Linked DNA regions of Homo sapiens. The protein of the gene in region 1 purifies or fractionates together with the protein of each later gene. This does not show direct contact. Each region holds a gene or a part of one and is shown on either strand. Other genes may lie near its edges.

Region 1 (5,305 bases):
AGGTTTGTAATATTCTAGCTGACTAAGTATTTCTGGGACATAAGGTTAACAACAGAAAAAGAATATCATTTTACTATGAAACAGTTTTTCTTGCTTAGATGACACCTGGTATTTGGTCACTAAATTTAGTTATTTGACAAAGGTTCTTGGTAACAGTTTTGCCTCCAATGTGTATACTAATTCCTGTTCAATCATAAAAAGAGGCTATATCTCTCGGCAGTAATCTTTTATTTTCCTTCGTTGCCCATAAAACATGCTACGTGTCACTTAGCATTCCAGGTGGTTTAATGATCATATTGCTAACAGTAGAGTTCTAGCTGTTCTTTCAGTCTTTTGAATTCAGAAAGGAGAAAGAATCTCAGAAATACATCCGAAAAGAATCAGTTCAGAAGTTCTATGTCAATCCAGACAGCAATGATATAGTGAATCACAGCACTGATCCAAAGGCAACGAAGACTTTTGCTGTAGGCCAACATTGTGGTCATTTTGCAGAGGTCCCATAATTGCCTCTGAAAAAAAAAAAAAACATGATGAAAGTCTTTATGCATGTTAGTTCCTGGACTTTCTTAATGAAGCTGTGTTAGCTGCTTGGCAATCAGATTAAAAATGGCTAATTACTTATACATTGGCCTCACTTTCTAAGTTGGTGCAAATGGCACAGCTAACGATGGTAGCTAACTTGAAATTTTTATTCCAGCCAAAAAGAGTGTATTAAGAGAAATGTGTATTTGTGCAATACTGTAATTGGTGCATCTTTCACATTTTATGCTGCCGTGTACAAACTTCTTCCCCCAACAGATTCAAATCTAATTCTAGGAAGACATTCTCAAATGTATGTATATATAATACTTTTCTAGTAGAAACTCTTTAAAGATAGAGTCATATTGCGTGACTCAGTTGAGGGTTCAAGAGTTCTCTATCCCATACCCAGATCTAATGGCCTGTTTAATCTTGAATCCCATCGCCAACACTTGACAACTTTCACATTACCTCTAGCATTTGACAGCCTTTCTTAGAGCATTTGTCCAGCATCCAGAAAGTTGAACTTCAGCTATTTACAAATAAGATCAATTTATTTTTGCTTCCTTATTTACAACTTTGCATCACTCCCTGTCATACAGGGTAAAGAAGAGAGGAAAATACATCAGTTGACCTGAGGTTCAATTCATGATCTAATTTCAGCGATTTTTGTGCACCATGTACTTAACATTGTCTCAAAGATTTGGGTTGGTACGCAGTCCGAGCAGCTCTGACGGAATTTGTGCCTTGCGTATCTTAAGGGCTTGAGATTCTTAAATGAGTTAAAATGTTTAGTATTTAGAGGAGTGGTTCACAAAGTTTGCTGCACACTAGAATCACCTGACATACTTTCTGAACATACTCATCCTGAGATGGCACCGCATACCAATGAAATTAGAATATTGGGGTGGAAGAAAAAAGCATATATGTTTCCTTTAGAGGTCCCTATGTACAGCAGTGTTTGGAAACCACTGATTTAGACTCTTGATAGTCAAAATGTGGTTTGCAGACAAATTTTTTAGAACTGCAGAATCTCCATATTTACTCCAGGTCTATTGAGTCAGAATTAGAATTTTGACAAAGTACCTAGGCAATTTGTATGCACATTAATGTTTGAGAAGCATGATTTGGAGTGAGGAAACAGGCTTTTTCCTTCCTTTCCTCCTTCCTTCCTTCCTTCTTTCCTTCCTTCCTTTCTTCCTTCCTTCCTTTCTTCCTTCCTTCTTTCCCTCTTCCCTCCCTTTCCCTTCCTCCCTTTCTCCCTCCCTTTTCCCTTCCTCCCTTTCTTCCTTCCCCCTCCCTCCCTTCCTCTCCTCCCCTCCCCTCCTTCCTCTCCTCCCCTCCCCTCCTTTCCTCTTCCCTCCTTTCTCCCCTATTCTCCCCTCCCCTTTCCTCTCCTCTCCTCTCCTCTCCTCTCTCTCTCTCTCTCACACACACACACACACTCTCACCTCCCACTGACCCCCACCTATATCACATTTTTCTTTGTCTAGGTAGATTTCCAGCCTCAAGCTGGCATACTACCTATAGAAACACCTGTAGAGCTTTTCAAATGTAAAGATGCTTAGGCCATACCCCTAATAATGTGAGTTTAATTAGTTCTGGGGTGGGATCTGGGCATAAGTAGTTTTAAATGGCTCCCAAGTGATGCTAATGGATGGCCAGAGTTAACCACTGATGTAGGGCATTACTGCTGGTGGTCCACAGACCAGCAGCATTTGCATCACCTGGGAGCTTGTTAGAAATGCAGAATCTCAGTCCCTACACCACATCTACCAAATCAAATCTGGATTTCAACAAAATCTAATGGTCATTTCTATGCACTTTAACATTTAAGAAGCACTGGTGTAGATCTCAGGGAACTGATTGCACCTGAGAATGAATGACACCACTCCAGGCACCTCAGTAGAGAAGATTTGATATTATCTGTCTAATCATTATGAAGGCTCATGGATATGTGATCATGTTCTAGGTCTTCTGGTTGTTTTTGGATACAACAAAAATGAAATGAAAAAGAAACTGCGTGATCTAACTCATAGTTAGATCAGAAAACAAACTTACTTTTAAATACCCTTGCTGCTCATCCTCCAATCACTTACTTTCAACCCCCAATTACCCTAAATATTTATTCTCTACATTCATTTTAAGCTCCTGACAAAGTCTGCTGTTAACTCATGGTAATGTGATGATATTTGACTACTTAAATCAAGGCACTTCTAAACAGAGTGAATATAGTTTTATCCTTTTCTATTGTCATACCTCTCTGTTCAACCCTTTTGAGATTCCTATGACCTAAGTACTCGTTTGTCCCTCACATACTGCGTTTCTTACAGTCAACATTGTAATTTTTGTGCTTTTTATTTAAACAAATATTTATTGAGCATCTGATATGTACCCAATGTGCTTATTTCTGAGAATGTGAAAGAAAACTAAGATGCAATCTCTGAACTTGACAATTTCACTCTTCTATCTTCACTAATATATTAACCTTCTCGTGGGCAAAATCTGAGCCTTTAACATTCCAGCAACCACCTAAGTGTCTATCTCAGGTAGAATATTTAAGTTTGCATAGTAGGGATTCGAATTATATGCGTTGGATAGCCTTAATTAGTTTTTTTAGGCCAACTTCATGGATCCAGAAGATTGTAAGTTGGGAGAAGTGTGGGAAACTTAGCTACCAGGAGGGCTCCCAGAAACATCAGTGTGATTCCAGAACATGGAAGGGAGTAATTTGACCCACTCTCTCAAGAGAGACCTGCACATGTATTTCCAAGGAAGATTCAATTCTTTGTTCTAGATTTCATACCAGCCATCAGAGTTCAGTCAGGGCCATGAACCAACACACTTAAGGTATAGAACAGTCATTTCTCTGAAGCCAGGATGATTTACTCTGCAGCAGAGAAAGGAAATGTCTATGCAATCATTAGTATATCAGAACTGGAAAGCGATTTTAAGAAGAGCCATTTTGTGGTTAAACAATAACAACAACAATAATAAAAGACTGAGCCAGTATAGTGAGATAAGTAAAACATAATTCAGTAAAATCATGATGTATAGTCACTGAGTGTAGGAAATACAGTTTCTTACTCCACCTGTCATGGTGTAAATTTGGACAAATCTTTTCCTCTTTGGGTCTCAAGATTCTTAAATATCAAAGGGGGTCCAGTTCATTTAATTTAAAATACCGAGTTGCCACATTGTTCCAGGCACATTATTAAATGTGGGGGACAGAGGTATAAATAGTTTATTGACTTGCCCTCTAAAAGCTTACAATGTAGGGATATATGAACAGGATCAAGAGCTGTTGATTTCTAGCATTTTATGTGTCTTCTCCATTCATCTTTCAGAGTTCTAGTAGGTTATCCGGGAGGCTAGAATATAAAGTCTTACAGTGATTAATGAGCTCCAAAGAGGCACTTAACATTCCACAGCAATAATTCCTGCCTTTTGTTTCCCCTTTGGTTTATTTAAACAAAATTATTGTGTGGGAGAACATTTGAACTCAAGCTATGTATCTACTATAAAAGCTATTCCACCTGACTAGCTACCTGCCTAACCTGTTTCTTGCTTTAGGTTATTATGAGGCTTGTTACCCTCAGTAATAGGTCTGGGGGAGGCCAACCTACTTGCCATTCCCTTATCCTTTTTCTTTTGTGCTTTTAAGTTTTTGAAGTACCAACCTTATTAGGTTTGGTGTTTTGTGCTACTGATTGACCAATAATGGTTTATTGCATCTCTTAATATTGGGTTTCCTGATTTGTCACATATTTACACCCATAAATAACGTTCGTGAAACACTTTGTACTTTTTCAAAAGGCTTTTAATATATACAATCTCCCTTAAAACCCTGTGATTTGGCATTTTAACTTTATTTTATAGATAACAAAACAAAGGATCATAAAGACTAAATGACTTAGGCAACTCATCTTACCTCTGTTTCTCTGCAAAATAAAAATTCTTATACCCATCCCAAGTGCTGTACCATAATATCATGATTATGAAATAAAACTCATGCTAATAAAGTATTTAGAACTCTTTAGAATTATAATCTGACTTTCATCATTTTTAGCTGTATCTCTCTTTACACTAGACTGTGAGATCCTGGATGGTAGAAATTGGTCCTCTGCCATTTTTGTAGTTTTAGCAGCAAGTATACTGCACGACACTCAATAAATCACCCTTCATTAACTCCCACAAAAACTTCACTTTACCAAAAGGGATTTCTTGTGTGCTTATTCTACAGTTTTAATAGTAACGTCTCCAACACCTGAATTTGTCTCTACATCTTATGGGTTTGGGGATGGAGATATATTGAGTCAAGTATTACACCTTGGATGGGTTTAAAACATAAACTGTGTAAATTCTGGCCACTAACAATGGTCTTAATCGGGGTACATCTCAGAACCACCAGACATCCTGTAATACCTGCAAGTCAGATATTTAAGAAACACTCAGGTGATGATGTATGTCCTCAATTATGAATCCATCGATAAGCTCCAAGATGGTTACTAGGAAACTATAACACATACATGTGTTCTTTATCAGGAGCACTATAGGACTTCTACTGCCTGGGCCTTGTCTTTTATTACCACCCTCTTTAGTGTTAAGAGAGTGTGTGTAGAAGAGAGATTTCATTTCTGTACTACAGACTTGGGATTGAAAATAGATATGCAAAATAGATGGCAAGAGTTTGAGGCTAAGATGACATGCCATTTTCCCCAGCATCATCTTCCTCATCTCCTTATTAGCATCCTTGCATGCAGAGCACGGTAGGATTTTTTAAGGA
Region 2 (5,305 bases), on another chromosome or scaffold:
AGAGGCCAGTTCAAATATAAAAGAGGTATAAAAGAAACATAAAAGAATGCCATATAAAGTGCTTTAAATATTAAATGTAAAGGCAAATTTTATATAAAATATGAACAAGCCAGTTGCGGTGCTTCACGCCTGTAATCCCAACACTCTGAGAGGCTTGAGCCCAGGAGTTTGATACCAGCCTGGACAACATGGCAAAACCCCATCTCTACTAAAAATATAAAAATTAGCCAGACATGTTGGTGCACGCCTGTAGACCCTGCTACTCAGGAGGCTGGGGTGGGAGCATTGCTTGAGCCTGGGAGGTCACGGCTGCAGTGAGCCTTGATTGTGCCACTGCACTCCAGCCTGGGCAACAGAGCAAGACCCATCTCAAAAAAAAAGAAATACCAGAAAAGTTTAAGGTCCACAATTCTGCACTTTGACTCATGATACAAATGTTCTCTAAGTCCCAGCTATTGTGTTTAATATATCTAATAATAGTAACAATCATTTATTTAATATATATTATGCACCAGAGATGGTGCTGGGCCCATTATGCATACACAATCTCATTTAAAAACCTGACGACACTTATGCAAAAGTAAGTATTGTTGGTATTAAACAAAAGGAGGGAAGGAGGTTCAAAATCTAACTACAACTAAAAAGAAGAATCAGAGTGTGGATTCACAAAGGTCTGACTTCAAAATCTATAAATTTTCTGCAATATCACTTTGCTCTCTATAAAACTAAATACAGTCAATCTCGTTCCCATTGTGGATTCCATATTTTTAAGTCGGCCTGCCTGCTAAAATTTATTTGTTAACCCCAAAATCAATACTCACAATTTCTGACTTTTGTAGTCATTCAGTAACATGTACAGAGCAGTGAAAAATGTTGAGTTGCCCGACATACACGTGCATTCCTACCAGAGGTCAGTCAGGTGACTTTCTTCCTACTCGTTTAAACTATCATACTGTAAACATATGTCCCTTTTGTAGTCTAAATTAGTACCAGATTTTTTTTTGAATTGTTGTGCTTTTTGTGGGTGATTATTCTGTTTTAAATAGCCCCTTGTATAGTGCTGAGAAATGCCGTCTAGTGCTCCTAAGTGCAAGAAGGCTGGGATGTGCCTTATAGAGAAAAGACTTGATAAGCTTTGTTCAGCCGTAAGTTATAGTGCTATTGGCCATGAGTTCGATGTTAGTAAGTCAACAATATATATTAAATGTCTCTAAACACAAACATAAACAAAACAAGGTTATCTATTGATCAGTTGGTGAAAATGTTGTGACCAGAGGCTTCCAGGAACCTAACCCTGTCTTTCCCTTAGGAGCCATGATTCAGTATTCCCTAATTCAATGTTTTCAGCAAGTGTATAGAATACAGTTATGGCAAATAGTCAGAATCAACTATAATACAACTGAAAACTTTCCCCCAAAAAATGTTTACATTGATATTTCAGTAAAAGATTCTTCCTCTGTCATTTCCTTCAAAGATACTACATCATTATATTTATGCAGTCATCATTCATCTGCTTAAGAAACCTTTTGTTGGCCTTCTGTTTAATGGGTTGCAGCTCCATGTGTTTTACTTTGCTCAGAAAATTAATCTCTCTTAAAAACAATCTGGCTTTCCAGTGTGAAAGTTTAAGGCAATTAAATTTCACTTCTTATTACCAGATGTCATGGATACTGTGTAAAGATGACTGTTTTGTGAGATTATGATTTTTAAAACTAGATATTATAGTTATACATAATATAAACAGCATAAGCAACAACAACAACAATGAAAACTTAGCAAATGAAATCAGAGAAATAGCAGCACAAATTGGAACTCTTACCTTTCTTGCCCAAGTCAGAGATTTTATTGAAAAAAAAAAATTACAGTACTTAAAAATTCAAACAAGGACAATTCAGGGTTGAAAGAAAGAAAACCCGAAGGAGTCCATTGTCTTCAGTAAAGTTTTAAATACAAAAAACATAGACCAGAAAAACAGCTTATGGCCTAATGCACTAGTTCCATGATAAACACACATATATAGTATGTCTCCATCAAGTGAAACTTCATCACCTTTTTACAATTTAGAGAGGGAAAGCAGCTTTTAGTATGGTTAAGCCATGTATCATCAATACCATGAAGCTAGCCTATCAGTTGTAATAGCTTCTATAAAATACCACAGTGAGATTGCAATAAGCCTAGAAAATGGGCTACAAATCCCAGCTATGCTCAAGCAAGCAGTGAACCAAAAATAAAAATAGGTAAAACTGAACCAAGAACTAGATAGCATTCATCTAGATTCATGATTGATAAGGCAAAGTTCATAGGCCAAGGTTTTAAAGTGACTTATTCAGATCTAAAAGACAGTCATTATACAAAATAAAACAAAAGCATTTATGTAATTCAGAAAAAAAACATGAATTTTCACTCCAAAGACATAGCACAGAAAAGCTTACTTACAATTACCAACACCACACTATTGTACCTTTAAATATGCAAAGGTAAAGAGACTCAAAGTTGCATTTTACCATTTTTAATCTCTCCAAATTAGACAAGCAATCTAAAAGAAGATGTCACACATTCCTGTTTAATGCATTTGCTGAAATCTTTCAGACTTTAAAAACTTTAGGTAAAAGCAATGGCAACTTGAAGTTTCTTTTCCAATCATATTTAAGTTAGCCATTAAATGCTGAATTAACAATTAATCCATACAATAATATAAAAATACACATATTAAATCACATTGTTTTTCATTATTGAAGCTTAATAAAAATATCATTTTAATATAACCATTTTGAAGAACTCAAATGGCTGAACTTATTATAGTGTCTAAATTATACCATCAATAGAAACATTACATTTTCCCCCCAGTTGGTGAAAATGAGCTCATGCAAGTATTTCTGACACTCACAGTGACACATATGGTCTGCCATTCTAAAGATGTACAAGCAGCTCTCACTTTTAAACATGACAATATGATTCAGAATCACACAGCATTTGTTAAAAATACCAGCTTTCACATGTTTCATTAAGCTCTAAACCAAAATAATAATTTTGATGTGTTTCAGGTATCAGACAAAGCAGATAATTTAAAAGGTAAATGATTCTACTAGTGCAGACTAGTTATCACTGTGGCTAATTTAAAACGAGGATGATTTTTGCAGTACAATGAAAGCTATACTATAAAATACAATGAGTTTGCAATACAAGCAGATTACCCAAGTAGAAAGGAAGCTGAACAAAATACAAACTCCAGCAAAGATTATCAACCTTACCTACTACTCATCTTAGCCCTTGTTAAAATACCCTGAGTAAAATGCAAATATTTTAAATAATGCTGGTTATATAAGACTTCTCTAAAAATGAACCATAAATGTCAATGCATCATGATTTTTATTTACAACAGTCAGATATGTAAAAATTAATTCTTAATCAGTCACAATATAAACATTAAGGAATACTTGTCGATCTGGAAGTTTAAAATTTTCTAGCTTTGTTAGCATTTTGGCAAAGCAAGTATACATAAATGGATTCAATGTAAAAAAAAAACCATAAAAGAGAAAAATATATAATTTACAGTAGTTTCTATCCACCCTGGGCCAACCTAAATCCCTAGAAAGCCTCCCCAGTCAGGTTCACTTCTGACTAAAAGGAAGAATACCAGTCCTCCAGCAAAAACAGCCCCATCTTTTCATCAAAGAGGCTCTCACTTCAATGATATTCCTCCAGGGAAGAGGACAGGAGCCAGGTTCCCTCGAATGTCATTCCCCAGATGTTCAAAACGTAACTAATTTATTAGCATTAGAAGATTTGGTTTATAGGGGAATCTCACTGGTCCAGTTTGTAGCCTACAAAAAAATGGATTATTTTTAAGTTTAACATTAGAATATGAATAAAGGATGAGGATGTGGCTTTTTATTCCATAGAAATGGAAACATTTCCAAACATGACAATTACACAGAAAAAGTATGCCTACCATTGAAGTTGGAGTCCCTCCAGATTTTTTAATATTCTTTGAAGACATTCCATGAAGGCGACTGAGTCTAGCTTGGAAACCTGTAAAATCAAAGTACTCAATTTAGAAGTTTTCTATGATCACTGAAGCATAGAAGAAGAAGAGGATCCTATCAATAGAGAAAGAAAAGTAAGTTGGTGGTGGCGGTGAATGCCACGAATATTATTTGGGAAAATGCAAAACTCACACTTAAAAAAACTGAAGCAATGCCTAGCAAAGTACTAAGGCAGTCAGCACTTAACTAACCAGTGTTCAATCACTAGAGTAATAAATACCCATTTTCTTTTTTCCGAATTAACATTCTTATCATTTCAACATTTTCTCAATGAGCCTAGCAAGAAAGCAAGTCAATTTTTCTAATAATTTGAAAGCATGATAAATGTAGTAGCTATATTAGTGGCCAATATGTTTCTTTACAGCATCTTGTGTTTACATTCTCTAATTTCCACTTTATCTTATCCTCCTTGAATGAATATTCCTAGACTGACCTTAAACCCATTATATCTACCAGGGAGCCAGTGCTACTGACCTCTTCTGCTTGGGTGTGACATAAGGGGAAAAGAACCAGTTAAGATACTTTCAAAGACAGGATCTGGTACATTTTTGTCTAGCTCAGTAGGATCTTCCTTTTCCCACCAGGGCACAACTCCAGTGATACCACATGCTCCACCTGATTCCTTTTCGTAGAACCAGTCACTCTGTTCATCATCACCTGTGCAAATACAAGAAACCCCCCCCCACCAAAGACTCAGTTTTATCATCCAGTTACACAATTAGTCTTGTCAGGTAATAAAAATACAAGATGGCAGTTAAATTTGAATTTGAGATCAATGACTAACTTTTAATATAAGTATTATATACTTGCACTAAATTTTTGGTGGAAATATGTCTAAGTACTGCATGGGACATACCTGTACTAAAAAATTATGTGTTATTTACCTACAATTTAAATGTAATTGGGGATCCTATGTTTTATTTGACAACTGCATATACAATCTATAAGGAAAACTTTTTATTTTATACCACAGCTTCACTTAAGAAATGTTATCTTAAGACTCTAAGAACTGCCAGCAACAAAAACACAAAATATTATGTTTTAGAACCAATTTTAAAATGTGAAAAACAATAATAAACTGGTTAATCCTTTGGCAAAAACTATTAGAAAATCCATTTAAGTTACTACCCCTTCCACGTTAAGAAAAAACAAACCTTAATCTGCTCCTGGGAATTAAAAAGTATTAAAACTGTGGAACCCTTTCTTTGCAGCAGATATAGGTATATAATTAGCTTAATTTCATGATTTGTATGGAGTGT

The links.
Region 2: the proteins of FGF12 (region 1) and GPATCH2 purify together in Homo sapiens (affinity purification with mass spectrometry; one large-scale study listed by BioGRID and IntAct). This does not show direct contact.

The regions. Positions count from the first base shown.
Region 1 is NC_000003.12:192,720,506-192,725,810, reverse strand, and holds part of FGF12 (fibroblast growth factor 12), read left to right. Parts: intron 1-5,305. UniProt on the Homo sapiens protein: Involved in nervous system development and function. Involved in the positive regulation of voltage-gated sodium channel activity. Promotes neuronal excitability by elevating the voltage dependence of neuronal sodium channel SCN8A fast inactivation.
Region 2 is NC_000001.11:217,606,369-217,611,673, forward strand, and holds part of GPATCH2 (G patch domain-containing protein 2), read right to left. Parts: intron 4,704-5,305; coding exon 4,521-4,703; intron 4,033-4,520; coding exon 3,953-4,032; intron 3,825-3,952; coding exon of another isoform or gene 3,792-3,824; exon of another isoform or gene 1,821-3,791; intron 1-1,820. UniProt on the Homo sapiens protein: Enhances the ATPase activity of DHX15 in vitro.